Regions from separate parts of the Homo sapiens genome. Here region 2 is linked to region 1. Evidence: fine-mapped expression QTL. A gene starts in region 1. The other region holds a variant in brackets. All regions are shown on one strand. Distances are between the middles of the regions.

Region 1 (15,506 bases):
CTCCCCTGACCAATGTGAATGAATGGTTCTTGCCTAGCCCATTACACAAAGGGGTAATAATATTTAGGGAAAGGGGACAGAGGATAGGCAAATTTATTCATCAATGCCAAAGCTCTCAGTGTGGCCCAACCACCCTGGGGGCTGACCCAGCCAGCCTTACCTTCAGGGCAAACCAGCCAGAAATGGGGAAGGTGACCAACAGCAGCAAGAACCCCAGGAAACTGATGAGGCCATGACAGAGGCAGGAGGGCCAGCTCTGGGGTACATCTGCAGGTGAGAGCAGAGGTGGTCAACTGGACCTGCACGACAGCTGCCAAGCGGAGTGAACTTGGGCAAGTGTACCTTACGCCCACCTTCCCCTCGAGAGGCTCCTTCCTTCTCAGGGCTCTCAATCTGGCTCCTTGCCTAATATTCCCGTATCTTTGGGCAGCTGCAAGTTAGGGTCTGTTCCCTCCTCCCATACATCAACACTCATTTGTCCCAAGTCCAACAACCCTCACAAGGCCTTATTCTCTGCTAGGCAACAGCCATTCAATCTCAGAATCCAGTCCGCGTGATGATGCTCTCCTCACTGGACTGAGTAGGGGTCAATCCTCTCGTTTAATTTATATTGCCTACCCATACCTGGCATGGAGCCAGGAGCACCTGGGCATCTGTAAACATGCACTGAATACTGCTGGCAAAACACATTCCTCCTATACCATCAGCCCCAGAAGTGTGCTTTCCAGGAGTCCTTATGAAGATGATGCCTTAGCCTACAGGGATAAATCATAAATAGCTTATCAACGGGAGCCACAGATGAGGAATTAGATTATTATTTTCTATTCCACACCCAACTTTAATGCCTTAATGACCATTAAAAAATGCCTATTTCACGAGATGGCGCCACTGCACTCCAGCCTGGGGGACAGAGCGAGACTCCATCTCAAAAAAACAACAAACAACAAAAAACAAAAACAAAAAAAAACCCTGCCTATTTCAATTCAAGAAAATTGTTAGGGGTCGGGGTCAGGGGCAGGGCTAGAAAGATGAGGCTTATCCAAGCCAAATGTCCTGGCCCCTGGAGATTCAGGAGCCCAAGTTGGGAGCAAAGCCGAGACAGCTCCAGAATCTGGGATGAGGTTATTTGCCGCTTTCCTCCCAACCCTGGACAGGAAGCAGTCGGGAGCCCTGCTCCATTCTTCCAGGAAGCCCTGCCCTCTGGGCTAAGCCCCAGAGCACTGAGGCTCCACTTTGTGCCTGGCTCTGATCCACCAGGCCTCTCAAGAGACTTCTGGATAGGGAGAGCTTTCAGGACAGGAAGGCCAGGGAGGGATCAAATCCAAGGTTAGGCGGTTAGGCTGAACAGCGTGGGATCTGGCCTGTAGGCCAAAGGAGCCACAGAAGACTTTGAGGGCAAGACAGAAGCAGGGCAGATCCAACAGGCAGCTGAGGACCTGTCATTTTGGCCTGCACATCCAGGAGATGCCTAGTTCCCGGGCTTCTAGAGGTGCCCCCTAGGGCGAAAATTCTTCCATTTCCCTGCAGCAGGTGCCTTTAGGGTGCTGGTGGCCTCCTCTGCCTAGACCTCGGTTTCTTCTATGCGAAATAGAAACCTGAAACGTCTTCCCAGGCCTAAAGGGCTGATAAGAGCCGAGGACAAATGTGGTGAGGTGAGGTTTTGGAAGATAGGAGCAACGCTGGCTGGCTCTGGGGCCAAAGCCCCATGACCCTAGGGAGGGCGGATCGGCGCTAGCACCAGGCGCCGGGTCCAGCCCCCTCTCCACATCGTATCCCTTTCTCAGTCCCCCCTCGTAGGGTGCGACGGCACCGGGCCGGCCGACTCCTCGGAGGCAGAGATTCGGGCCTGGGGGTTGCCGGCCGGTCCCCCCCGGCTCCGCCGTGCCAGGCGGCCACTCACCGGCCCCTGTCCCCACGCCGCCCCGCTCCGGGGACAAGCAGCCCTTCTGCGAGCCCAGAAAGCCGAAGCTCGACTGCTGGAAGCGGTCAAAATCACCCAGGGGCAGCGCCCGGTACCCAGACCTGCCGAGCATGGCTTTTGACAGGAGACACGCCCCGCGCCTCCGCGCGGCGCCCTCCCTGGCCAGTGGGCCCTACGCGGCCCCGCCCTCCTGGCTGCTGCTTCCGGCTTCACCCGCGCGGCCACCCGCGGCGGCGCGGGCGCAGGAAGAGGAGGCCGGCCGGGGCCCGCTTCCGCCGTCGCATGGCTCCCCCTGCGCTGGGAGGACCGAACTGCAGCCCAGGGCTACTGGGTGTGATCGGCGTTCCTCGGACCCCGCTGGGGTCATCGCCTCCTCCCCTCTTCTCCTACTCAGCCCTAGAAAAGCTGGAGGGGAAGCTGGGCACGGTGGCTCACTCCTATAATCCATCAATTTGGGAGACTCAGGCAGGAGGATCGCTTGAGGCCAGGAATTCAGGACCATCCTGAGCAACATAGTGAGAGCCCATCTCTACAAAAAATTTTTAAAAATTAGCCTGGCGTGGGATGCCTGCCTGTGGTCCCAGCCACTTGGGAGGCTGAGGCGGGAGGATCTCTTGAGTCCAGGAGTTTGAGGCTGCAGTGAGCTATGATCGTGCCACTGCACTGCAGTCGGAGCGAGAGAGCAAGATCTCATCAGGGTTTACAGGAAGCCAATCTTCTCCAGGATCAAGGACATGCTATATCAGCCTTCTCAGCACTCCTTCTCTCACACTGGAGGCAGGACATGCCATATCTGGACTTTGGGTTTCTCTGGGACATAGTCTGCAAATTATTCCTCTTTGTGAACCCACAGCCCAGCAAGCAGGGACTGGCATAGGGCAGGTCTCAATACTTATTTGTTAAGTAATGGCCTGGCCAGGTCACCGTGATCAAGGTGGAGTAGGAAGGCCTGAACTTTGGCACAAAAAGAAAGAAGTTTCACATGCAGACTTCGGGGAGCATGGGAGTGTAAGGAAGAAGGGGATAGCACAGAGCTACATGAGGGCAGGGGCCCCAGAGCACCACAGAGGTGAGGCCCTCAGTCCTGCAGGTCCAGAAAGAGCATGCCCCTTGATCCAGGTACCTGGAATTAACTTGCCTCTCCAGGGCTTGAGAAAACCTGAATGCAACTCGTGAATTTCCTTTGAGAAGTGTTAACTTCCAACAGGACTTTGGGGTAGTCTGGGAGCAGGCTATCTTCCAAAGCAAGCAAAGAAATGAATAAAGCTTCCCCAGCTCTGCCTCCTCAGCCAATCGCCTCTGGCCTCCGAAGCCCCATCCTGCCATAGCCCACTTCCAGGTCCCTTGTGCAGATGGCTGCCCACCATATTTGGCTTTCATGGACTGATTCTCTAAAGGCCTGGGAGTACTGACCAGGCTGGAGGGAAGGGCAGGCTCCTGAGGCCTTACAGTCCCTAGGAAGTTGCGTATCTGCCCAACCCCTGCTCTCCACCCTGCAGACTGTAAGGTTTACAAGAGCCAGGCCCTATCATCATCCTTTCTAGTCTGTTTCTAAGTTGGAACAGAGTACGGAATGGGTACACAGGAGCCAGCACAGTGGTTGCGATGGTTTAAGTTTGAAGCCGGGGCGCTGACCCAGTGAGGTCACCTGGAACTGTGCCCCTTTCCCCTTACCAGCTGGGAGTCTGACATGCTTTTCCATTGGCGAAGACCTAGCTGGCTCTCCCCTCACCCTCTTCATACCCGCTCTCCAGCTCTCCCCCTCCCTCCTGCCCCCACCACCTCAGATCCACCAGCCTTTCCAGCTGTCACTCAAGGCATCATCCTGCTCCCTCACCTCCAGTCACTGGCTTCCCAGGATCTCTGAATCAAGTCCCTCCTCTGCATCCCACAGCCACTGTCCTAGACCAGGGCACCTGCTCCTAGGTTGTCAGAGTGACTGTCCCATCATGCACAGCTGATCGTGTTGTTCCCTGGTTCCAAATCCTTCAGCAACTTCCCATCACTCACAGAACTGGTTCAATCTCCTCAGCTAGGATCTTGTCCTAGCACACTCCTTGGGTATCATTTCTCATGAATTCCCTCTTAAATCTGAAAATGGCCAAAATTAGTTCCCAAACAGGCTTTTGCAAGAGCTATCTTTTCTGTTTCAAGTGTCCCCCGTACCCCACCACCTACAACCCTAAATCCCTGGTGAATTTCCACTGCTTTTGCAGGTCCCAGCTGTGGGCTCTCCTTTCCAGAATGTCTCCGTTTGCAGGCTTGCTCTTCCATTACATCTACGGCTCTTAGAAAGCAGGGGCTGCGTGTGGCTCATCTTTGTACGCCCAGCTCCCGGCAGGACGTGGCACGAAGCAGTGCCAGTGTGAACGGATGAATGGATCAAAGCCGGGAGCAGGGCTGCCCCCCTGCAGCTCTGCCCTACCTCTCCCGCTTTACCGTAAGTCAGCGGTAGGTCTGCAGCTCTCCGCCTCTACCTCCTCCCCGCTCTGGGCGTGTCTTTAAAACCCACAGTCGGCCTCTCTGCCCCCTAGAACCGCCCCCAGCTTCTGTCTCACTTCCTCTCCAGAGGCGGGCCCTGAGCCGGCACCTCCCCTTTCGGACAGCTCAAGGGACTCAGCCAACTGGCTCACGCCTCCCCTTCAGCTTCTCTTCACGCACTCCAAGATCTAAACCGAGAATCGAAACTAAGCTGGGGTCCATGGAGCCTGCACCCGCCCGATCTCCGAGGCCCCAGCAGGACCCCGCCCGGCCCCAGGAGCCCACCATGCCTCCCCCCGAGACCCCCTCTGAAGGCCGCCAGCCCAGCCCCAGCCCCAGCCCTACAGAGGTACTATTGGGTTAGGGGATGATGGGGTTAAGCTTTGTTGGTTTGCTGTGGTGGGGAGAGGCGGGAAGAGAGGGTCTAACGGAGGATTTGGTCAAGTACCCTAGAGAGTGACACAAAGCGGGAAGTCCAGACACCAGGGTCCTGACCGTCTCGGGTGGGGCAGGGAAGGGAGGGTAGGATAGAGTAGAAAAGAGGACACGGAGGAGTTGGGGCGGCCTCGCTGGGCTGCGGTTTCTCCACTGAGCAGTTGGGCAAGGTGAGAAGGGTCAGTGGCCTCCGGGCCTGGGCCCTTCCGCCCACCCTCGAGCCCTGCCTCAACTTTGCCTCAGATGCAGGACTTCAGATTAGGGAGGATGGAGGTAGTACCCCTGTTGCGCTGGCCTGGAGCCAGGGGCATGTCCCAGGCACGGCAAAACTAAAACCAACTTCCCAGATCCGAGGTGAGAAACTGGCTCAGACTGAAGAGGTATCTTTGCCAAGGCCTCCCAGCTCATGTGGTTTCTGCTTAAGGAAGCCTCCCCAACGAACCCTTCTCTTGCCACACCTTTCCTGCCCACCTCCCACCTCCCCCGACAAAGGAACTACTTGGGTTTCTTGCTCTGCTGCCTTTCAGGCCCTTTTACTCCCCTTCATGAAAGTACAGAGGACACCGTATTACAGTAACTTTTATAAACATTATTACAACTAAGAATAACATTACTTAACAATACTAGGTAACATTTATGAGCACTTCAAATGTGCCAGGTACTGTATTAAGCACTTTGGTTTTTTTTTGTTGTTGTTTGTTTGTTTTGCTTTGTTTTTTGTTTGTTTGTTTATCTGTTTGTTTTTGAGACGGAGTCTCACACTGTCGCCCAGGCTGGAGTGCAATGGTGCGATCTCGGCTCACTGCAACCTCCTCCTTCCGGGTTCACGCCATTCTCCTGCCTCAGCCTCCCGAGTAGCTGGGATTACAGGCCACGCCACCATACCTGGCTATTTTTTATATTTTTAGTAGAGATGGGGTTTCACTATGTTGGCCAGATTGGTCTCTAACTCCTGACCTCGTGATCCACCCACCTCGGCCTCCCAAAGTGCTGGGATTACAGGCATGAGCCACCATGCCCGGCCTGTTTTTGTATTTTACAAAATGTGGTAAAATATACCTAATGGATAAGTTCCTATGTTAACCATTTATAAGTGTACCATTCAGTGGCATTAAGTAGATTCACAATATTGTGTAACCATCACCACCATCTATTTCCAGAACTTTTTCATTACTCCAGAAACTCTGTACTCTTTAAACCATAGGGGAGGGAAAGATGGCTTGCCTCCACCCTTCTAGTTTCCTTGGCTGGGCTATGAATTAAATAGCCTATGAATTAAATAGTCATAAAATAGATTACCAGCGGAAAACCCATATTTAATTACATATGTATACTCAGGAGTCCCACAATATATGAGACTCAAAGAAAGGTCAGATGATTGAAGCCTGTATAACATCCTGAGCTACGGAAAAGAGCTTGGAGCTTCTGGGTGATGGTGATAACACAAGTTATGGGAGGGTGAGGAGAGGAGCTGTTTGGTGAATAGAGGTTGTCTTGCTATGTAGATTAAAAGTTCTTAGATAATAAAAGTTGTCTGGAGCAGCCCTCTTTTAATATAGATCATTTTACTAATGTAGATTTTCTTTTAAGATATAAATGCCTTTCTTTTTTACAAAAGGAGAGCTTTTCAGAGCTATTCCTGTATCAGCAGTTTCTCAGAATAACCAGCTTAAAATATGCCAAAGAAGTATATTTCAAGAGCCTCCTGCAGTCATACTTTGAAGTGGTGTGTCCTGAGCCCCAGTAATGCAATAGCTCCTCATTTTCTCCTTCCCCTAGCCCTTGGTAACTTCTAATCTACCTTCTGTCCCTATGAACTTACTTATTCTAGATATTTCATGTAAGTGGAATTGTTACCAGTAGAGGATCTTGACTGCAAATTGTTCAGGTTCTTGGCATTTTGAACAAAGAATTGGACAAAATGTACAGCAAAGCAAGGAAAGAGTGAAGCAATGAAAGCAGAGATTTATTGAAAATGAAAGTACACCCCACAGGGTGGGAGCGGCTAGAGCAGGGCTCAAGGACCCCAGTTACAGAATCTTCTGGGTTCCAAATACCCCCTAGAGGTTTCCCATTGGCCACTTGGTGTTCACCCCATTGGTTGCAGAAAGCAACCAACCAGACGTACTTTCAATTTTCCATCTGCCCTGCAGGAAATGGGGTGATTTGCAAAGAGAGTAGCCTCTCTTCCTTTTGTTACTGAGGCATGGAGAGTTGCGGTTTTCCTTTCGATTTAGTTCTAGGAAGTCAGAGGGAATCGGCCTTAGGTTCCCTGCCTCCAGACCCTATTCTCCTGCCTCAGAATCATACAGTGTTTGACCTTTTGTGACTGGCTTATTTCACTTAGCATAATGTCATTGAGGTCTATCTATGTTGTAGCATGTATCAGAATTTCATTTCTTTCTAACGCTGAGTAATATTCCATTATATGTGTAGACCACATTTTGTTTATCTATTCATCTGTTGATGGATACTTGGATTGTTTCTACATTTTGTCTATTGTGAATAGTGTTGCTGTGGACATTGTTGTACAAGTATCTGTTTGGGCCTTGTTTTTACATCTTTTGGTTATATATCTAAGAGTGGAATTTCTGGGTCATATTGTTGTTCCATGCTTACCTCTTTAATGAACCCCCAAACTGTGCATTAAGCACTTTATATGAGGTTGGTACTTAGTGTATCTACCTTCCAAACTGAGTTCCTTGAAGGCAGAATGTATCCTACACCTCTTATATCTCAGAGCCTATTACTGTGGGTGATGAGAAGTAGATGCTCAATAAATGGTGCAGTGAGAGCTGGAGGGCCTGAATAAATGGGGGTATTGGGGTGCTGATAAGCCAGGGTTTTGCATCATCCAATGACTGGCTGGAATGGAATATGAGGTCCTACTCCAGGGTCCAGCTGTAAGGGTGGTTGGCCGGTAGGTGGGGGCTTTTGGGACTTCTCCAGGCCTCACCTGCCTCTCTGGTCCCCCAGCGAGCCCCCGCTTCGGAGGAGGAGTTCCAGTTTCTGCGCTGCCAGCAATGCCAGGCGGAAGCCAAGTGCCCGAAGCTGCTGCCTTGTCTGCACACGCTGTGCTCAGGATGCCTGGAGGCGTCGGGCATGCAGTGCCCCATCTGCCAGGCGCCCTGGCCCCTAGGTGCAGACACACCCGCCCTGGATAACGTCTTTTTCGAGAGTCTGCAGCGGCGCCTGTCGGTGTACCGGCAGATTGTGGATGCGCAGGCTGTGTGCACCCGCTGCAAAGAGTCGGCCGACTTCTGGTGCTTTGAGTGCGAGCAGCTCCTCTGCGCCAAGTGCTTCGAGGCACACCAGTGGTTCCTCAAGCACGAGGCCCGGCCCCTAGCAGAGCTGCGCAACCAGTCGGTGCGTGAGTTCCTGGACGGCACCCGCAAGACCAACAACATCTTCTGCTCCAACCCCAACCACCGCACCCCTACGCTGACCAGGTGAGTAGGCCGGCACAGGGTGGGGTGGTGCATCCAAGTACCAGGTAGAGGGCGAGAGGAGCAAAGATCCAAAGAGTCACACAGCTGAGGACAAGGAGCTTCTGGGGCCTTGCAACTCTAAATGTGGTCTGCAGATATGCAGTGTCCGTGTTGATGACCACAATTTATGCTGCCAGTCCCCACGCAGGTGGATAGTAAGTTTCCAGTTTCCTCCTGTAATAAATAATGCTGCAGAATCATCTTTGCATCTTTATCCAGTAACTTCTTTAGGATAAATTTTTAGAAGTGCCACTGCTGGGTGTAGGGGGACGGGAATTCTACATTTGATACATGTTACCAAACTGCCCTTTAGAATTTAGTGGAATTTTCCGAGAGCACTGACACGGAATCTCAGTAAGGCTGGATTCTAGGATCAGAGACAAGTAGTTAGTTTCTGTCTGAAAAGTTGAAACCATTAACACCAGGCAGCGCTATCTGAGAATGTCTGTATGGGGAAAAAAAATCACATCCAGTTGTAATTATTTTTATTAAACAGATTTTAACTCAGTTTTTTAATAGGTAATACATTCGTACAGTTCACGAACAAAATTTGTAAAGAGGAGAGAGAGAGTGCAATCTTCTGTCCATGCCCAACTGCCTAATTCCCACCACTTCTCCCTCTTCCCATCCACAGGTAGCCATTGTTACTAGTTTTGAATGTTTCTTCTGAGAGTTTCTTTACGAATATATATGCAGGTAGGAGCAATCTTATCAGGTCCTATTTTCCCTCTTTTAGCCAAAAAGGTAGCATAACTATGTGAACTTTTCACCATTAGCAATAGATTGTTCATAGAAGGCGCTTCTTGGTTCTTAGAGATCCACTTGCAAAATGAAAGCATTTTTCGCTGGTTTTTGACAACTCAGAACTATATATGGCTAAACCACATATTTGCTGAACTACATATCTGCTAAACTGACTGTGATTTGTTTCCTGCTTTAGGATAAACTTCCCACACTATCAGAATAAGCTTTCCCCTCCGACTCCTCAACAGCTGGTATCACCACGTTTCTTAGCTTATTGTAAAGGTTGAGTGGCTTTCCACTTGTTTATTGGCCATTGTGTTTCTGCATTTGCGAGTGGCCTGTTTAGGTCCTTTGCCTGTTGTTGTTGTTGTTTCCGTTGAGGAATTAAGGGACTAATTAAAGAATTCAGGAACAAATTCCTCGAAAGAAAAAAATGTATGCATTTCTTTTGCTCTTACAATTTATGCAGTTTTAAAACTTACATATTTATTGGATTTTGATTGAAATTGCAATAAATTAGGAGAAATTGGCTTTATCTCTGGTTCTATCTTTTGGATTTAAAAAATTTTTTTTAATTTTTTTTTTTTTTTTTTGAGATGGAGTCTCGCTGTGTCACCCAGGCTGGAGTGCAGTGGCGCGATCTCGGCTCACTGCAACCTCCACCTCCCGGGTTCACGCCATTTTCCTGCCTCAGCCTCCCAAGTAGCTGCGATTACAGGTGCACATCATCATGCCTGGCTAATTTTTTGGCATTTTTAGTAGAGACAGGGTTTCACTATAATGGTCAGGCTGGTCTCCTGACCTCAGGTGATCCACCTGCCTCGGCCTCCCAAAGTTCTGGGATTACAGGCATGAGCCACCATGCCCAGCCTTATACTAATTTCTTAATGAATTTGTAAGCTTTCATGTTTTGAACGTGATAATGCAGCCATCCCACGGGATCCATGGGAGTCTGTTTCAAATTCATAGATGCTCAAGTCTCTGATATAAAATGGCATAGTATTTGTATATAACCTCTACACATCCTCCTGTATACTTTATTTTTTATTTTATTTTTATTTTTTGAGACGGGGTCTTGCTCTGTCGCCCAGGCTGGAGTGCAGTGCTGCACTCGTGGCTCACTGCAGCCTCAATCTCTTGGGTTCAAACAATCCTCCCACCTCAGCCACCAGATTATACAGGACTGCAGGTGTGCACCACCACACTCAGCTAATTTTTAAATTTTTTGTAGAGACAGGGTTTCACGACATTGCCCAGACTGGTCTTGAGAACTCTTGGGCTCAGGCAGCAACCCTCCCTAGGCCTCTCAAAGTGCTGGGATTACAGGTGTGAGCCACTGTACCCATCCCCTCCTGTATACTTTAAGTCATCTCTAGATTACTTATAATGCCTAATACAATGTAAATGCTATGTAAAGAGTTGTTTTACTATATTTTTGAATTTGTATATTTTTTTATTGTGGTACTTTTTTAATTGATTTTTTTTCGCCTGAATATTTTTGATCCAAGATTTGTTGAATCCACGGGTGCGTAACCTGCAGATACTGAGGGCCAACTGTACATATAAATTGTTTAGCGTAGTGCCTGGCACATATTAAATACTCAGTGAATGTTAAAATTCTATTATAATTTCTCTGCTCTAGAACAATTTGAAGAATATAAGAAATTTAGGCTTATAAAAGTTTTTTGAAAAACCATCTTGGAACTGGTGCCTTTTTTATAGTAGATTTTTGGGAACTTTTCCCATTTTTGCCATGGCATTAATCTGTTTTGGCTCTTGTGTCAGATTTTTGGAAGATTTTCCAGTTCATCCTGAGTTATCTTTCATTATTTAAAAATCTCCTATATGCCTGTAACTATACCCCCTTTTTTTATTTCTGATGTTGTATATTTGTGGTTTAGCAGTCTTTTCAAAGTACTGTACTTTTAGTCTTTCCTTAGATTGCTTACTGATTTTAATGTTTTCCTTCTTTCTGTTTGATCATTTTATTTTTGTCATTTTCTTCCTTCTAACTTTTGTCATTATTCATTTTCTAGCTTCTTGAACTTATAATTCATTTATTTGCAATCTTTATTGTTTAATAATAATAACTTTTTTTTTTTTGAGAATCTCCCTCTGTCACCCAGGCTGGAGTGCAGTGGTAGATCTTGGCTCACTGCAACCTGTGCCTCCTGGGTTCAAGTGATTCTCCTGCCTCAGCCTCCCCAGTAGCTGAGACTACAGGTGCCCACCACCATGCCTGGCTAATTTTTTTTATTTTTAGTAGAGACGGGGTTTCCCCATGTTGACCAGGCTGGTCTCGAACTCCTGGCCTCAAGTGATCCACCCGCCTCAGTCTCCCAAAGTTCTGGGATTACAGGCGTGAGCTACAATGCCCTGCCTAATAATAACTCTTTTAAGGCATAAGTTCTCTGTATATGGTTTTGGCTGTATGCCATAACTTTGATAACTTCATTAGTGTTCTCATAGTCAATCATTTCTCAAATTTCATTTCAGTCTTTTCTTAAAAAGGTTCTCTTGCTTAAGGTCAAGAGTTCGAGATCAGCCTGGGCAACATAGCAAGACCTCATCTTTACAAAAAATAAAAAAAATTAGCCAGGCATGGTCGGTGGTACATGCTTGTAGTCCCAGTTATTTGGGAGGTTGAGGCAGGAGGGTTGCTTGAACCTAAGAATTTGAGCCTGCAGTGAGCTGTGATGGTGCCACTTCACTCCAACCAGAGCATCAGAACCGGACCCTGACTCGAAAAAAAAAAAAAAGAAATTTTTTTCTCTTGAAAAGTTTTAGAGAATAGTGTTTTCTAAAATTTTCAAGTGGTTTTGATGTTTGGTTTCTTGTTCTGTCACCCAGGCTGGAATGTGATGGTGCGATTTCATACTTGTTAATTTCTGCACTATGGCCAGTTTATACAGTTTGTATGAGTTCTACATCTAAGACTATATTGAGATTTTCTTAGCGGCCTAGGATATTCCTTGGACTCACATATTCCTAGCAATAATCCTTAGAGTTGAAAAGTTGTATTTGTTGTACACACATATATATACATACACAAATATATGTATATAATATATATGTGTATATATGCATATATCTATATGTATATATCCATATATATGTAAGTTCTAGTGCTTGTGTGTGTGTGTGTATCTCCACGCTATTGAAACTTTCTACCTTTCTTTCTTTTCTTTTTTTTTTTTTTTTTTTGATGGAGTCTTGCTCTGTCATCCAGGTTGGAGTGCAGTGGCATGATCTCGGCTCACTGCAACCTCCTCCTCCCGGGTTCAAGTGTTTCTCCTGCCTCAGCCTCCTGAGTAGCTGGGATTACAGGCGTGTGCCACCATGCCCGGCTAAGTTTTTTTTTTTTTTTTGTATTTTTAGTAGAGAAGGGGTTTCATTATGTTGGCCAGGATGGTCTTGATCTCCTGACCTTGTGATCCACCCGCCTCAGCCTCCCAAAGTGCTGGGATTACAGGCGTGAGCCAACATGTCTGGCCGAAACTTTCTACCTTTCCTTCCATTCTGTTTCACCAGTTCTCTAAATGATAATTACAGAGTGGTAACTTCCCCATCAAAACATATATATAGGCCAGATGTGGTGGCTTCCACCTGTAATCCCAACACTTTGGGAGGCCAAGGCCGGTGGATATTTTGAGCCCAGGAGTTTGAGGCCAGCCTGGGCAATATGGTGAAACCCCGTCTCTACAAAAAAATACAAAATTAGCTGGACATGGTGGCACATGCCTCTCGTCCCAGCTATTCGGGAGGTGGAGGTATTCCTCAGAGAGGATCACCTGAGCCTGTCCGTTCAAGGATGCAGTGAGCCATGATCACGCCACTGCACTCCAGCCTGGGTGACACAATGAGACTCTGTCTTAAAAAAAGAAAAAAAGTGGGCCAGGCGCAGTGGCTCACGCTTGTAATCCCAGCACTTTGGGAGGCTGAGGCAGGCGGATCATGAGGTCAGGAGTTCAATACCAGCCTCACCAACATGGTGAAACCTCGTCTCTATTAAAAATACAAAAATTAGCCGGGCGTGGTGGCGGGCGCCTGTAATCCCAGCTACTCGGGAGGCTGAGGTAGGAGAATTGCTTGAAACTGGAAGGCGGAGGTTGCAGTGAGCTGAGATTGTGCCACTGCACTCCAGCCTGGGCAACAAGAGTGAAACTCCATCTCAGAAAAAAAAAGTGTATACACACACCAACACACACATACATGCACACTCTAGAACCTATCTCATCTATCACCACAAAGAGTAGAATATAACTATTCTTCCAGAGAAAATAAAACATTTAGCACACTTTTATAGTTTTTCTTCTTCCCTCTTCCTTCTCACTTTCAGATTTAGTTGAAATAATGTGAACTTTTAGTTCCAGATTACTACCAAATTGTTAATTTTTTTTTCTTTTGTAAACATCCTTTCTGAACAGGTATTAAGCTTCATGGTCATATTACAACGCACTTGTTAGCCATACCTTATACTTTAATTGGTTTCATTGCTCATGATAAGTTTTCCTATAGCTTTTCTTCTCCTTTCTTGAATTATTTAAGGTGATTAATTTTCCATTTGGCAGGAATACTCCATCAAGTAATTAAAAAAATTATTCCAGAGTTTACTTTCTGAGACCTTAAGTGTCTTTACTTGTATGTCCTTCTTTTGCTGTCACATGTGAGGGAAAGTTGAGCTAGGTGTAAAATTCTGAGGTCATAATCACAGTGCTTTCACCTCAGAATATATAAACCTTGCTTCATAAATTTCTAGTCTCTGGTGTTGTAGATGAGAAGTCCACTAATGGTCTATTTTTTCTCTGTGAGTAATCTGTTTTTGTTTGTTAAGGATCTTTATTTATTTTTATTTATTTTACTTTTTAGAGATGGGGTCTCACTCTGTCACCCAGGTTGGAATGCAGTGGTGCAATCAGAGTTCACTGCAGCCTCAAACTCCTGGGCTCAAGCAATCCTCCCACCTTGACCTCCCAAGTAGCCAGGACTACAGGCACCTGCCACCGTGCCTGGCTAATAAATATAGTTGGATGGTTTTCATTTGTTTATTTGTTTGTTTAGAGATAAGTTCTTGCTCTGTTGCCCAGGCTGGTGTGCAGTGGTGTGATCATAGCTCACTGTAACCTCGAACTCCTAGACTCAAGAGGTCTGCTAGCCTTAGTCTCTGAGTAGCTAGGACTATAGGTGCCTGCCACCATGCCTGGCTAATTTTTAAAATTTTATGTAGAGATAGGGTCTCACTATATTGCCCAGGCTGGTCTAAACTCCTGGCTTCAAGTGATCCTCCTGCCTTAGCCGCCCAAAGCACTGGGATTACAGGCTTGAGCCCATGCCCAGCCTGCTAAAGATCTTTATATAATTTTTTCTTTTTTCAATAATCTTCTATCGCCATTGTTGATCTGAAAAACTCAAGTCTTTCTTCAGCTCTTCATCTCAGGGAAATTGTATTCTGCTTTTTAATTTTTTTTTTTTTTTTGAGATAGAGTATTGCTCTTGGAATATAGTGGCATGATCTTGGCTCATTGCAACCTTTGCCTCCCAGGCTCAAGCAGTTCTCATGCCTCAGCCTCCCAAGTAGCTGGAACTACAGGAATGCGCCACTACACCTGGCTAATTTTTGCATTTTCTTTTTAGTAGACACAAGGTTTTGCCATATTGGCCAGGCTGGTCTTGAATTCCTGGCCTCAAGTGATCTGCCCGCCTTGGCCTCCCAAAGTGCTGGGATTATAGGCGTGAGCCACTGTGCCTGGCCATACTTTTTAATATACTGATAGCCCTTCATTTGTTTATTTTATTTTTTATTTTTATTTTTTGAGACAGGGTCTCACTCTCACCCAGGCTGGAGTGCAATGGCACGATCTCGGCTCACTGCAACCTCCACCTCCTGGGTTCAAGTGATTTTCCTGCCTCAGCCTCCCGAGTAGCTGGGACTACAGGTGCGCACCACCATGCCCAGCTAATTTTTGTATTATTAGTAGAGACGGCGTTTCACCATATTGGCCAGGCTGGTCTCGAACTCCTGACCTCGTGATCCACCCGCCTCAGCCTCCCAAAGTGCTGGGATTACAGGTGTGAGCCACTGCACCCGGCCCATTTGTTTATTTTTAAAATTTTTACTACTGTTGTTATATGGATATTGGAACTCCAAGAACATATTTTACATCTTTTAAATTTTTTCCCCATTAATTCTGTTGCTTTGCTTTTTTCCCCGAGATTCTCAGAGAGCTCCTCGAATTGTTTTTCTAACTCGCCAGCTCATCTTTTCGCCGCTGACTCCATTCTTCTATCTGCTACCCCTGTAGAGTTGTTGTGGGTTTTTTTCCCCCCAGCAATCTTTTTTTTTTTAATTGCCAAAAGAGCTTAATGCTCTCAGGATGCTTTTTCTTGGCAGCCTGCTCTTGTTTTCTCATTGTAGTGTGTTCTTAAGTCTCCCTGAA
Region 2 (15,506 bases), 28 kb before region 1:
AGGCAGGGATGGGAGGATCACCTGAGCCCAGGAGTTTGAGGCTGTAGTGAATTATGGTCTAGCCACTGCACTCCAACTTGGGTGACAGAGGGAGATCTTGTCTGAAAACAAAAAACAAAAACAAAGTGGCTACATGCTCACCAGACACATTATATCCTCTTTTTTTTTTTTTTTTTTTTTTTTTTTTTTTTTTTTTTTTTTTGAGACGGAGTCTCACTCTGTTGCCAGGCTTGAGTACAGTGGTGCAATCTCGGCTCAGTGCAACTTCTGCCCCCTGGGTTCAAGCGATTCTCCTGCCTCAGCTTCCCAAGTAGCTAGGACTACAGACACGTGCCACCACACCTGGCTAGTTTTTGTATTTTTAGTAGAGACAGGGTTTCACCATGTTGGCCAGGATGGTCTCAATCTCTTGACCTCGTGATCCGCCTGCCTCAATCTCCCAAAATGCTGGGATTACAGGCATGAGCCACTGTGCCTGGCCTGTATCCTCTTTTTAAAAGCCATTCTAGTAGGTATCCTGTGGCAGTCATCTTTCCATATTCCTGGGGACTGATTCCAGGACTCCTGAAAATAGGAAACCCCGGGCATGCTCAAGTCCCTGATATAAAATAGTGCAGCGTTTGCATATAACCCAGGCACATAACCCGCTCTACTTTAATTTATCTCTAGATTACTTATGATCCCTAATATAATTTAAATGCTATGTAAATCGTTGTTATGCTGTATTGTTTTTATTTGTATTGTTTTTATTGTTGTATTGTTATTTTTTTCAATATTTTTTATCTGTGTGTTCACTGTGCAGTTGGTTGAATCCGTGGATGTGGAACCCGTAGATACCGAGGGCTGACTGTATTTCATTCTGGTTTAAATTTTCATTTCCCTAGTGACTAACAATGTTGAGCATGTGTTCATGTGGTTGTTTGCCAGGATATCTCTTCTTTGATGAAATTTCTGTTCAGATCCTTTGCCCATTTTTAATTGGCTTGTTTGTCTCATTATTGAGTTGGAAGAATTCTTTATCTATTCTGGATACAAGTTATTCATCAGTGATATGTTTTGCAAATATTTTTTCCCAATCTGTCGTTTGTCTTCTCATTTTTTACTAGTACCTTCTAAAGAGCGGAAGTTTTTAATTTTGATAAGAGCCAATTTATCGGTTTTTTTTCCTTTTATGGGCTGTGTTTTTTGTCCTATCTAAATCTTAACTTAAACAATGTCACAAAGATTTTCTGTAAGCACTGCAATAAATGGTATCCCATGAGTTTTTAGGACTAAGTTCTAATTTTTGATTTTGCCCAAATTTCTATCTAAGGGATCTAGGGAGTCATGCCCTACAAATCCTAAATTCTCATCAGATGGGTTTTATTTATATATTGTGACTTACTTTTCAATCTGACTCTGGTATAACATTACGAGACAAGGAAAAAATATTTAACCCCAAAATATATTTCCCTGCCATAGCTTGAAATTGCCCTGCAAGTCTCTTGTGGGAAAAATCCACATTCTATAGAGAATCCCCTTGCCCCTTTGTTTTCCTTCCTTCCTTTCCAGATCCAGGAGATAATCAACTAAGAGCCAGGCACTCTTTTAGGTCTAATAAGAAACATTTTACAACCTGCTCTCTCTCTCCTCTCTGTCTGAAGTCTGCTATCTGAGAGATTCCTCTGCACAATAAAACTTGGTTTCCACAATCCTTTATTTTAACCTGAACATTTCCTTTCTATTGATCCCAGATCTTCAGACAAACTCAACCAATTGTCAACCAGAAAATGTTTAAATTTACCTATAGCCTGGAAGTCCCCACTTTGAGTTGTCCCTCCTTTCTGAACCAAACCAATGTATTTCTTAAATGTATTTGACTGATGTCTCATGCTTCCTAAAATATATAAAACTAAGCTGCACCCCGACCATCTTGGGCACATGTTCACATGTTCTCAGGAGCTTCGGAGGGCTGTGTCACGGGCCATGGTCACTCATATTTGGCTTAGAATAAATCTCCTAAAATATTTTACAGAGTTCGACTCTTTTCATCGACAGTGTTGATATGTTGTATTTTTATTTCCATTAGAATATTTCTAATTATCCTCATGGTTTCTTCTTTGAACCATAAGTTATCTAAAAGTGTGTTGTTTGATTTCCAAACATTTGGGGACTTTCCAGATATCTTTCTGTTACTGATTTATAGTTTAATTTCATTATGGTGAGAAAACATACTTTGTATGATTTCAATTATTTTTAATTTGTTAAGATTTGCTTTATGGCCCAGAATATGGTCTATCTTGCTAAAGTTCCATGGGCACTCAAAAAGAATGTGTATTCTGCTGTTGTTGTGCGAAATGTCCTATAAATGTCAATCAGATTGTTGGTTATTAGTGTTATTCAAGTTACCCATACCCAGCCTGATTTTCTGTGTACTCGCTCTACCAAATATTGAGAGAAGAGTGGATGTGTCTATTTCTCCTTTCAGCTCTAACGGTCTCGATTGCATGTACCCTGACTGTGTTCTCCAGTGCACATGCATGGACAGTTATGATGTCCTCTTGATGAATCAACCCCTTTATATACAGTCCTTCTTTATTCCTGGAAATATTCTCTGTTTCTGCTTCATCTGACATTAATATAGACACTTGAGCTTTCTTTGGATTAGTGTTTGCATGGCATGCCTTTTTTCCATTCCTTTGGTTTTAGGCTATCTAGGTCTTTATTATTATTTTTTATTTCTTTTGAGACAGAGTCTCGCTCTGTTGCCCAGGCTGAAGTGCAATGGCGTGATCTCAGCTCACTGCAACCTCCACCTCCCGAGTTCAAGCGATTCTCGTGCCTCGGCCTCCCAAGTGGTTGGGATTACAGGCATGTGCCACCACATCCGACTAATTTTTGTATTTTTAGTAGAGATGGGGTTTCACCATGTTGGCCAGGCTGGTCTCGAACTCCTGACCTCAGGAGATCAGCCCGCCTAGGCCTCCCAAAGTGCTGGGATTACAGGTGTGAGCCACCGCCCCAGCCCTAGGTTTTTATATTTAAAGTGTGTTTCTCACAGACAGCCTGAGGGTCCCGGAAATTTTCTGGAAGTTGCGGCTCCACCCTCAGCTCTCAGCAACCCCTGCTCGCCTGCACTACCTAGGGGATGCGTGGTCTTGCCCTCCTCCTGGTGGTAAATGTCTCTGTGTGCTCTTGCCCGCCCCCTGGTGGTAAATGCCGTTGCTGCTACTCTTGGTTGGGCTAGTAGTGGAGGCAGTTTGTGGACGTGTGTTAAAGGGTTTCCGGACGGTGGGATGTTGCTCCATTCTCCTGGCCCAGCCTCCGCAGAGCCTGTGTACTAGGGTCTCAGAAGGTGGAGTCTTCGAAGTGCTCCTGTCCCTCCTGTCGTGCCTTCTATCTCCTGTGGGTTTAACACAGGAGAGTGCGTCCTGCGCCTCCCACAGGGGCAAGTGGTGTTTACTTTGATCCTGCCCCAGAAGCAGTGGATCTTCGTTTCTGCCTCTCCCGCAGCAGCCCTGGGGCCAGAGAGTGCAGCCTCCCACGTGGTTTTGCCCAGAGAGAATCGTCCTGGGGAAGCAGGTGGGGGTCGCTGCACAGCAGTCAATCACCGCTTGAGTGCTTGTGCCACCAGCAAGGGGGAGGGGTCTCTCCCGGCTCCCCCTCTGCCTCCAGTCTTTTTCCTGCAGTGAAGGCCTGTGCAAAAAGCTCAGAAGGCAGGGCAGACTCCCTCCTGCCCACCACATGCTCTGCCCAAGACAGTTGGTCTTGCCTTTCCTTGGAGGGGCTTGTCACTCTTTGGAATTCAGTTCTCTTGGTTGCCTGCCACCTCAGCTATCTGACTGGTTTAAGAAATTATGGTTTTGCAAATTATCTGGTGTTTTGTTATTGTTAGAGTCGGGGGGCGGGGTGGTTCATTCCTGTACTCCCAGCACTTTCGGGGGTGAGGTGGGTGGACCCTTTGAGCCCTGGAGTTCAAGACCAGCCAGCCTGAGCAACATGGGGAAACCCTGTCTCTACAAAAAAAAAAAAAAAAAAAAAAAAAAAATTAGCCAGACATGGCGACAGGAGCCTGTAGTCCCAGCTACTCAGGAGGCTGAGGTGGGATGATCACTGGAGCCCCCCCAGAAAAGAATGGGAATGATGTTCCCTTGTGGTTTTTCTATATCCTAAGAGGAAATAAAACACTCTTCTCTTTCACTTTTAACATATGCAAATGAGTGACTCTAAATGCCTTCTAGGGCAATGTCTCATGGCTTACAGTGCCTCGTGGTTTTTCTCATTTCTTTCATGATTGCAGCTGTATTTGCTACCACTTGTGCAGCTGACATTTACCAAGCCCTTACTGTGTTCCAGCATGCTTTCATTTAGAACCATCCCTGACTCCTCTTTTCTCTCAAACCCACGTTCAATTTGTCAGATAATCCTGTTGGCCCCATGTTCAAAATATAACCAGTTCCTTTCAAAAATAAAAATGGACTTATCATAAAACCCGGCAATTGCACTGTCATGCATTTTTCCCAGAGAAATGAAAACTTATTTTCATGGTGGAACTTGTACACAAATGTTCATAGAAGCTTTATTTATAATAGCCCTAAACCAGAAAATACTCACAAACTATGGTATATTCATACCACAGGATACTATTCTGCTGTAGAAGGAATGAACTATTGGTACAAGCAACAACTTGGATGAACTTTTGCTGAGTGAAAAAGCCAGCCTCAAAAGGATACATCACTGCATGATTCTATTTACACGGCAAATAATATAATTAGAGAGGGAATAGACTAGTGGTTGTCAGGAGTTAGGAATGTGTATTAGTCCGTTCTCCTCTTTCTATAAAGAAATACCTGAGACTGGGTAATTTATAAAGACAAAAGGTTTAATTGGCTCATGGTTCTGCAGTCTGTACAGGAAGCGTGGTGGCTTCAGCTTCTGGGGAGGCCTCAGGGAACTTACAACCATGGGGAGGGCAAAGGAGGAGGCAGGCACCACTTACATGGCCAGAGCAGGAGGAAAAGAGATGGGAGGTGCTACACACTTTTGAACAACTAGATCTCATGGTGCTAATCCATTCATGAGAACTCCACCCGGTTTGGTGGGGACCCAGATCAGTACCATATCAGAAGGGAGGGGAGGGTGTGGCTGTAAAGGGGTTACACGAGAGGCTTTGTGGTGATGGTACAGTTGAGCACCTCGGTCATTCTGGTGGCTACTCCAGGCTACACATAGGGCAAATTTACATAGAGCTACTTTGTGGTTGGCTGGGTGCGACGGCTCACATCTGTAATTCCAGCACTTTGGGAGGCTGAGGTGGGGGGATGACGAGGTCAGGAGGTCGAGACCAACCTGGCCAACACGGTGAAACCCCGTCTCTACTAAAAATACAAAAATTAGCCGGGTGTGGCAGTGTGTGCCTGTAATCCCAGCTACTCAGGAGGCTGAGGCAGAAGAATTGCTTTAACCCGGGAGGAGGAGGTTGCAGTGAGCCAAGATTGTGCCACTGCACTTCAGCCTGAAAACAGAGTGAGACTCTGTCTCAAAAAAAAAAAAAAAAAAAAGCTTTTTTGTGGTCTTTGTGCTGATACCAAATAAGTGGTATCATTTCCAACACCAATCGATTTTCTGCTTCTGTGATACCAATTGGGTGTTCAATAATTCAATTCTATTCTGATACTAACCTGGAGTTAGTGTCAGACTCCACAGGCTGAAGGGCTCAGTCCCATAAGACTACCCCCATTTCTCCCAGGCGCAGTGGCTCACACCTGTAATCCCAGCACTTTGGGAGGCTGAGGCGGGCGGATCACCTGAGGTCAGGAGTTCGAGACCAGCCTGGCCAACATGGTGAAACCCTGTCTCTACTAAAAATACAAAAATTAGCCAGGCCTGGTGGCGGGCACCTGTAATCCCAGCTACTCGGGAGGCTGAGGCAGAAGAATTGCTTGAACCCAGGAGGTGGAGGTTGCAGTGAGCTGAGGTCACGCCATTGCACTCCAGCCTGGGCAACAAGAGTGAAACTCCATCTCAAAAAAAAAAAAAATGGCTGGGTGTGGTGGCTCATGCCTGTAATCCCAGAACTTTGGGAAGCCGAGGCAGGCGGATCACCTGAGGTCAGGAGTTCGAGTCCAGCCTGGCCAACATGGTGAAACCTCATCTCTACTAAAAGTACAAAAATTAGCCAGGAGTGGTGGCGAGTGCCTGTAATCCCAGCTACTTGGGGGGCTGAGACAGGATAATTGCTTGAACCCAGAGGCGGAGGTTGTGTGAGCCGAGATCGTGCCACTGCACTCCAGCCTGGGTGACAGAGTGAGACTCGATGTCTCCAAAAAAACAAAACAAAACAAAACAAAACTACCCCCATTTCACATGCCAGTCACAAGTACTGGGTCCCCAGGTTACCCACACTTCTGTCCAGCCAACTACAAATTTGGAGGTTCCCGTGACCTCCATTCCTCAGGTTTGATAATTTGCTAGAATGGCTCACAGAACTCAAAAAAACACATTACTTCACCATTACTGGTCTATTGTAAAAGATACAACTCAGGAACAGCCAAGTGAAGAGATGCATAGGACTGGGTATTGTAGGGTGGGTGTGCAGAGCCTCCCTGCCTGCTCTGGGCGTCACCCCTCCAGCATCTCCATGTGTTCCAACCCAGAAGCTCTCCAAACTCCATTGTTTTGGAACTTTATGAAGGTTCCATTACAGAGGCATGATTGATGAAATCATTGGTCATTGGTGACTGAACTCCATCCCTAGCCACTGTCCACTCCCTGGAGGTCAGAGAGTGAGGCTGAAAGTTCCAACTCTCTCATCATCAATCATGGCTTAGTCTTTCTGATCAGCAGCCTGTATCCAGAAACTATTTAGGGTCCTCATTAACATAAGCTCAGGTATGGTTGAAAGGGGTTTGTTATGAATAACAAAACATCACTGTAACTCAGGAAATTTTAGGAGGGTTTTAAAAGATCTGTGCCAAGAACCAGGGACAAAGGCCAACTCTATTTTTCTCACTATATACATGATTTCCCATTTCCTACAGGCACACACAAACACACACACAAATGGGTGCGTGCATAACTGGTTAGATCTGAATAAACTCAATGGATTGTGCCGATGTTCCATTTCTTCGTTTTGATACTGTACTCTGGTTATGTGAGTTGTTCGCATGAGAGGTAGGGAACATGGGACTTCTCTCTACATTCCTTTGTGACCTTCTGTGACCCTACAATTATTTCAAAATTAACAACTTAGAATACAAATAACCAGAGTCCACCTCCCGCCCTGCTACCAGCCTGGTCCACACCACTCTCTTTTCTTGCCTGGATTATTGCAACAGCCGCTTTTTTTTTTTTTTTTTTTTTTTTTTTTTTTTTTTTTTTGAGATGGAGTCTTGGAACAGTTTCTTAATGGGTCTGCTTTTACATACAATCTATTCTCAATAAAGCAGCTTCGTAAGACAGATCCTACCATTTGTAGAAATAAACAAAAACCATTCAGAGCTTGCT[G/A]TAGCAAGGTTGTCAGCCAGCATCACTTGCATTTTTGTAGGGACTCAAAATCAGGCTGAGCCTTATTGTCGGTGGGCCGGGGGTAGGGGTGCGGGAAAGGAGGTGGGGGAAGGCTTGGGGTGTGCCCTGATTGGAGGCTATTGGCCTGGAGAAGCTGGGTGGGATAATTTGGAGGGGATTCTGAGATTGGCTGGGGAGGGGTGGGTGCATATTTGGCTTTCTCTTGCTGGCCCTAAGTTGGAAGCTGGGACAAAAATTAGGGAAGCTGCCAGTTTTTAATCAAGTCCTGGCCTTTCGGGGCTGATTGTTAGAGAAGTTATTGTTTTGCTTCCTGGATGGCTACTGGAGATAGTGATCTGGCTTCCTTCATGTCTGACTTATAGCAGACTGGCATCCTGGGCTGTGGATTCCAGATGAGGGGGTTGGTTTCCTGGGCAGCTTGCTGCAGGTTAGGCTCAGAGTTCTAGTTTCCACAGGGTCTGGCCATGGTGCACGTGTATGTTCAGTCCCTCATGTTCCTCTGCTTAGAACCCTGCAGGGGCTCCCACTGAACACAGCCCTTCCTGTGGCCTACCAGGCCCTACATGAGCTGGCCCCATTTCCCCTCTGGCCTGGTCTTCTGCCACTCTCCTCCCTCTCTCCATCCCAGCCACAATGGCCTCCTTGCTGTTCTAGAACATGCCAGGCCCTCTCCCAAGGCATTCATGGCCTTCTAACATACTGTATGCCTTTCTTATTTTTCTCTCTCTCTCTGTTTCTCACTCTCTCTCTCTCTATATATATATATGTATATACGTACGTATATACCTATATGTATATACATATACACACACACACACACACACATATATATATGTGTGTGAGACAGAGACTCACTCTGTTGCCCAGGCTTGGAGTGCAGTGGTGTGGTCCTAGCTCACTGCAGCCTCAAACTCCCGGGCTCAAGCTATCCTCCCACCTCAGCCTCCCAAAGAGCTGGGATTACAAGCAGGAGTCAATGCACCCGGCCTCCTTTCTGATTTTTAATGCTTATTGCTTATGTCTAGCTCTCACAACTAGAATGTAAATTCCACAAGGACAGGGTTCTTGGTGGGTTTGTTCCCTACTATATCCTTGGCACCTAGAACATTGCCTTGCCCAGCACATAGTGAGTGCCCAATAAAAAATGTTTGAGTGAATCAATGAGTTTGTGCGTACATGTGTGCAGATACATTTACTAACATCTACTACTTCTAATTAGGTGCTCAGTGTTTACTAGACACTATGCTAAGTGCTTTCATCTAGTATCTAATTTTTATTCTTCATAGCTTTCCTATGGGTAGGTGACATCAGGCCACTTATCTTTCAGGTAAAGTGGTCTCAGAGGACATGCTGAAAGCCCATGAGCTTCTCAGGGACCTAAATAAATGTTTAAAACCTGAGAAAAGTCTTGGCTCCAAAATGTAAAAACTACAGAATCATCCAAATTAATAAATGTTTAATCAAATGTCTACAAAGTGTCATCGATTGTTAATTTATGTCATTAATTCTCTATTGGCCTCTTTAATTATTAAATGCAGTGTTCATAAGAATTTCATTACTTTTGAAAAGAATTTGTAGACTAGATGTTAACTCTTGGAGCACAGTCATGTATCTGTTAACCACAGGAATACCATCAGAAAAATGTGTCATTAGGTGATTTCAATGTTGTACAAACATCAGAGAGTGTCCTTACACACTCTGTGATGTGTAGCCTGCTACACACTTAGGCTATAAGAGATAGACTATTGCTCCTAGGCTACAAACCTGTACAGCACGTGACTGTACCGAATACTGTAGGCAATTATAATACAATAATAAGTATTTGTGTATCTAAACATAGCTAAACATAGAAAAGGCACAGTAAAAATATCATATAAAATATTTAAAATGTACACCTGTTTAGGGTACTTACCATGAATGGAGCTTGCAGGACTGGAAGTTGCTCTGGGTGAGTCCGTGAGTGAGTGGTGAATGAATGTGGAGGCCTAGGACAATACTGTACACTACTGTAGACTTTAAAGACACTGTCACCTAGGCTACTACACTAAGTTTATTAAAAATATTATTCTTTGGCAGGGCGCGGTGGCTCACGCCTGTAATCCCTGCACTTTGGGAGGCCGAGGTGGGTGAATCACCTGAGGTCAGGGGCTCGAGACCTGCCTGGTCAACATGGTGAAACCCCATCTCTACTAAAAATACAAAAAATTAGCCAGGCATGGTGGTGGGCACCTGTAATCCCAGCTACCAGGGAGACTGAGGCAAGAGAATCACTTGAACCTGAGAGGCGGAGGTTGTAGTGAGCCGAGATTGTGCCATTGCACTCCAGTCTAGGCAACAAGAGCAAAACTCTGTCTCAAAAAAAAAGTTTTTCTTCAGTAATAAATTAGCCTTAGCTTTCTACAACTTTATGAACTTTAAAATTTTTTTTAAACTTTTTGACTTTTTATAATAACACTTAGCTTAAAACACAAACACATTATGCAGCTATACAAAAATATTTTCTTTTTTTGTATCCTTATTCTATAAACTTTTTATTTTTCAATTATTTTATTTTTACTTTTAAAACCTTTTTGTTAAAAACTAAGACACAAATACACACATTAGCCTAAACCTACATAGGGTCAGGACCATCAATATCACTGTCTTGCACCTCTACACCTTGTCCCACTGGAAGTTCTTCATAGGCAACAACACGCATGGAGCTGTCACCTGCTATTGCAACAATGCTTTTTTTCTTTTTTTTTTTTTGAGACAGAGTCTTACTCTGTCGCCCAGGCTGGAGTGCAGTGGCACGATCTCAGCTCACTGCAGCCTCCACCTCCAAGGTTCAAGGGATCCTCAAGCCTCAGCCTCCCAAGTAGCCGGGAGTACAGGCACGCGCTACCATGCCCAGCGACGGGGTTTCGCCGTATTGGCCAAGCTGGTCTCGAACTCCTGACCTCAGGTGATCCACCTGCCTCGGCCTCCCAAAGTGCTGGGATTACAGGCGTGAGCCACCACGCCCAGCGGACAATGCTTTCTTCTGCAATCTCTCCTAAAGGACCTGCCTGAGGCACTTCTTGAAGAAGTGTCCGTCTTTTCAGAAGTATGTCCATGGTGGTTTGCCAAGTTTGTTTCTTTCTTCCGTCATAGATTTGCATGAGTAATGCTTTGTGTCAGCTAAAATGTTACATCGGCTATGACGTCACTAGGTGATAGGAATTTGTCAGCTCCATTATAATCCTATGGGACCGCCATCGGATACGCAGCCCATCACTGACCTGAGACGTCGTTATTTAGGGTGTGACTGTACTTTAAGAATGCAAATGAATACCCAGGGAGGGCTGAGAACGCGTAGGTAATTACACCATAAATGAATTACTCTTAGCCAAGTAATTTCCAAGGCAAACATACAAAAATCACCTCGTGTTACCTGACAGTGCTATGTTATATTTAACGTAAGAAATCTGTGTATTTTAATATTTAATAAGGTGTGGGAAGGAACTTCCAAAGGTAATAGCATCTGGTCCTAGCAAGGTCTTAAAACGCCGTTTGATTTCAGAATGCCTCATTTTGTAGATTTAATCCAGAATCTGCAGTTTCTGGCGACGCAGTAGTCCGTCTCCCCCAGTTTCTCCTGGCCAAAGCCTCCCACCTTCCTCTCTACCCCCACAACCCTGTCAAGCGCACCTGGACCAGGTACAACAGGGGTGTGTGTGTGAGTGTGAGTGTGTGTGTGAATGCATTTGGGAAAGGCTAGGCAGGGTGAATATTCCCTAGACCCCGCTCTTCACCGTCACTCTACTACAGCAGCTCACTGCCCTGCCCCGCCCCTCCCCGGCCCTGGAAAGCAGCCTCTGGAAAGAGGAAACCAGCTATCTCCCGTGTTGCCACAAGATGGCACCACAAGCTCGGGACTGGCTTTCTTTGCGTTCCCGTCAGAAAAAAACGAGAGCTCTGACCTAGGAGCCGAGGCTCCCAGGGAGACCTCTGGACGCCACTCCCCGGGCTGCTTCTCCTCCTCGGGGTGACTCGGGCCCTCTGGAGTGACCTGCATAGCTTTGTGGTTCGGGCTCCCATGGGGCCCAGAAGCCAGCATGGAGACTTAGGGCTTCTCTTGGGCCACTTTTCTCCTCATACCCAGCATGCAGACCAAGGTTGGGGATGAATTCTGAACGTGGGGCAGAGTCCCTGTCCCCAGAGCAACTCTGAGAGCACCTTGCCCTTCTTCCCAGGGCACAGGCACCAGCCTTCCTCCCCAGCTCAGTCCCTGCTTCTTTCTAAGACAGGTTCTTGCTCTGTCGCCCAGGCTGGAGTGCAGTGGTGCAATTATGGCTCACTGCAGCCTCGACCTCCTCCTGGTGAGAGGTGACAGCGCGCCTGCAGCCCTCGCTCTCGGCGCCTCCTCGGCCTTGGTGCCCACTCTGGCCGCGCTTGAGGAGCCCTTCAGCCCACTGCTGCACTGTGGGAGCCCCTTTCTGGGCTGGCCAAGGCTGGAGCCGGCTCCCTTAGCTTGCGGGGAGGTGTGGAGGGAGAGCCGCGGGCGGGAACCGGGGCTGCGCGCGGCACTTGCTGGCCAGCGCGAGTTCCGGGTGGGCGTGGGCTCCGCGGGCCCCGCACTCGGTGCGGCCGGCCGGCCGGCCCGCAAGCCCCGGGCAGTGAGGGTCTTAGCACCTGGGCCAGCAGCTGCTGTGCTCGATTTCTCGCCAGGCCTTAGCTGCCTTCCCGCGGGGCAGGGCTCAAGACCTGCAGCCCGCCATGCCTGAGCCTCCCCCCAGCTCCGTGGGCTCCTGTGCGGCCCAAGCCTCCGCGATGAGCGCCGCCCCCTGCTCCATGGAGCCCAATCCCATCGACCACCCAAGAACTGAGGAGTGCAGGCACACGGCGCGGGACTGGCAGGCAGTTCCACCTGCAGCCCCCGTGTGGGATCCACTGGGTGAAGCCAGCTGGGCTCCTGAGTCTGTTGGGGACTTGGAGAACCTTTATGTCTAGCTAAGGGATTGTAAATACACCAATCGGCAGTCTGTATCTAGCTCAAGGTTTGTAAACACACCAATCAGCACCCTGTGTCTAGCTCAGGGTTTGTGAATGCACCAATTGACACTCTGTATCTACCTACTCTGCTGGGGACTTGGAGAACTTTTGTGTCTACACTCTGTATCTAACTAATCTAGTGGGGACATGGAGAACTTTCGTGCCTAGCTCAGGGATTGTAAACGCACCAATCAGCACCCTGTCAAAATGGACCAATCAGCTCTCTGTAAAATGGGCCAATCGGCTCTCTGTAAAATGGACCAATCAGCAGGATGTGGGTGGGGCCAGATAAGAGAATAAAAGCAGGCTTGCCCAAGCTGGCAGTGACAACTCGCTGAGGCCCAGTTTACGTTGGCGAAGCTTTGTTCTTTCACTCTTTGCGATAAATCTTGTTGTTGTTCACCGTTTGGGTCCGCGCTGCCTTTATGAGCCGTAACACTCAACCGCGAAAGTCTGTAGCTTCACTCCTGAAGCTAGCGAGACCACGAACCCACCGGGAAGAAGAAAAAACTCCAGACGCACCGCCTTCAGAGCTGTAACACTCACTGGGAAGGTCTGTGGTTTCAGTCCTGAGCCCGTGAGACCACAGACCGACCAGTGGGAAGAAATTCCGCACACATCTGAACATCAAAAGTAACAGACTCTGGATAGGCCGCGTTTAAAAACTATAACACTTACCACGAGCATCCGTGGCTTCATTCTTGAAGTTAGTGAGACCGAGAACCCATTAATTCCCGAAACACACTGGGCGCAAATCTTCCCTTCTCAGTTTTCCAAGTAGCTGGGACTACAGGCGCCAACCACCATGCCTGGCTAATTTTTTTTGTATTTTTAGTAGAGATGGGGTTTCACTGTGTTAACCAAGATGGTCTCAATCTGACCTCGTGATTCACCCGCCTCGGATTCCCAAAGTGCTGGGCTTACAGGTGTGAGCCCGCACACCTGGCCACCAGTTATTTTTCAATTGTTCTGTTTCCCTGTTCTTGCCTTACTAAGAAAGTAATTTTGAAATGACCGATCCGTTCTTTGTTTTTTGTTTCTGGTTTCTTCAGCTTATTCTGTCTGTAAAACCTGCGTCCTCTGCTCCGCTCCATGAAGACGCTCATTCTGTTTTATAGAAGTTAGTAAGTGTGATATATCTATTCTTTGTTTTTGTCTATAGTTCCTGGCTGACAGCCCATATAATCATTGTAATTTCCTAGGAGACTAGAGTGTGATAAGAGTATCTTTCCTTAAAATATTTGGCCTTTCATCCTTTGTTCTTGAAACAGCTCTGGAGCAGCTCCAGAGTAAGCATAAAGGTGAAAGATGGGCCGGGCGGAGTGGCTCACGTTTGTAATCCCGGCACTTTGGGAGGCCAAGGTGGCAGATAACGAGGTCAGGAGTTCGAGACCAGCCTGACCAACATGGTGAAACCCTGTCTCTACTAAAAATACAAAAATTAGGTGGGCATGGTGGTGCATACCTGTAATCCCAGCTGCTCAGGAGGCTGAGGAGGAGAATTGCATGAACTCGGGAGGCAGAGGTTGCAGTGAGCTGAGATCGCCACTGCACTCCAGCCTGGGCAACAGAGCGAAACTCCATCTCAAAAAAAAAAAAAAAAAAGTGAAAGTCGGGCTTGTTGTTTGGAGCCACAACTGAGCTTAACGTTTATAACCACAGGATGGATGGCTGCTTGCCAGGGGATCCAACCGTCTGCTCAGAGCCCCACCCTCCACATTCGGGGAGGAGAGAGGAACCGAAGGTTGATCACCAATGGCCAGTGATGTAATTGATCATGCCTACATAATGAAATCGCCATAAAAACCCGTAACGACTGAGTTCAGGGGTTTCCCAGGAAGGTGGTCTTGTATGGAAGATTTTGTATTCGGGGATGGAAGCTTTTGTATTTGAGGCCCTTCCAGAGTGTGCCCCGTTTATGTCTTCATCTGGCTTTTCATTTGTATCCTTTAAAATATGCTTTATGATAAACTGCTAAACGTAAGCAAATGCTTCCCTGCATTCTGTGAGGTGCTCTAGCAAATTAATCAAACCCAAGAAGAGGGTCATGAGAATCCTGATTTATAGCCAGTTGGCCAGAAGTACAGGTAATACAACCTGGGGCTTGTAATTGGCACTGGAAGTGGGGGACGGTCTTGTGGGACTGGGATCTGACGCTATCTCCAGGTAGATAGTGTTGGAATTGAATTAAGAACACCCAGCTGGTGGCCACTGCAGAACTGGCTCCTTGCTTGATATGGGGGGGTGGGGGAACCCCACACATGTGGTATCAGAAGTGTGTTTCTGGAGTATAGTAGGAGAAATTGAGTTTGTTTTCTGCTCATACACAGAGAAACAAAATCACTAAAGAGCAACAAATTGTATTCTGTTCAGATAATATAGTGGAAGAAATATTCCACTTATAGTAGTACCAAAAAGGATAAAGTACTTAAGAATAAATGTTCAGACGATATAAAGGACATTTCAAAACTTCTAAAGGACACAAAAGACATCAAAACACACCATGTTCAAGGATAGGAAGACTCAATATCATAAAGATTGTCATTTTCTTTTTTTTTTTTTTGAGATGGAGTCTCGCTCTGTTGCTGGGCTGGGTGGAGTGCAGTGACTCAATCTCGGCTCACTGCAACCTCCAACTCCCGGATGCAAGCGATTCTCCTGCCTCAGCCTCTCAAGTAGCTGGGACTACAGGTGCATGCCACCACGCCCAGCTAATTTTCGTATTTTTAGTAAAGACGGAGTTTTACCCATGTTGGCCAGAATGGTCTCAATCTCTTAACCTCGTGATCCACCTGCCTCAGCCTCCCAAAGTGCTGGGATTACAGGCCTGGGCCACCATGCTTGGCCAAAGATTACAATTTTCTATGAGTTACTTGACACATTTAATATAATCCCAATAAAGATACAATATTCTTTTTAAAAAACTACACCAGGTCATTCTAAAGTTCATTGAAAAAACAAACACTAGTCAGATAAAGACACTGACA

Evidence for each region. PIP is the estimated chance that this variant, and not a neighbour inherited with it, causes the effect.
Region 2: its variant is fine-mapped to the expression of PML in whole blood (TOPMed, PIP 0.92).

The regions. Positions count from the first base shown.
Region 1 is chr15:73,990,191-74,005,696 of GRCh38, forward strand. It overlaps PML (PML nuclear body scaffold), which reads left to right and starts at 4,526. Exons shown (of 9, transcript NM_033238.3): 1 at 4,526-4,751; 2 at 7,814-8,286. The coding sequence starts at 4,623. STOML1 (stomatin like 1) reads right to left here and starts at 2,105. Exons shown (of 7, transcript NM_004809.5): 1 at 1,901-2,105; 2 at 161-267. The coding sequence starts at 2,033. RefSeq lists enhancers at 1,382-1,511, 1,572-1,641, 4,939-5,108, 7,398-7,900 and a silencer at 1,772-2,331.
Region 2 is chr15:73,961,732-73,977,237 of GRCh38, forward strand. No RefSeq gene overlaps it. Among named protein-coding and RNA genes, the nearest start is that of STOML1, 23 kb to the right of the region's middle. RefSeq lists a silencer at 4,195-4,344 and an enhancer at 11,473-11,682. The variant G/A (reference allele first, on the strand shown) is at 7,486.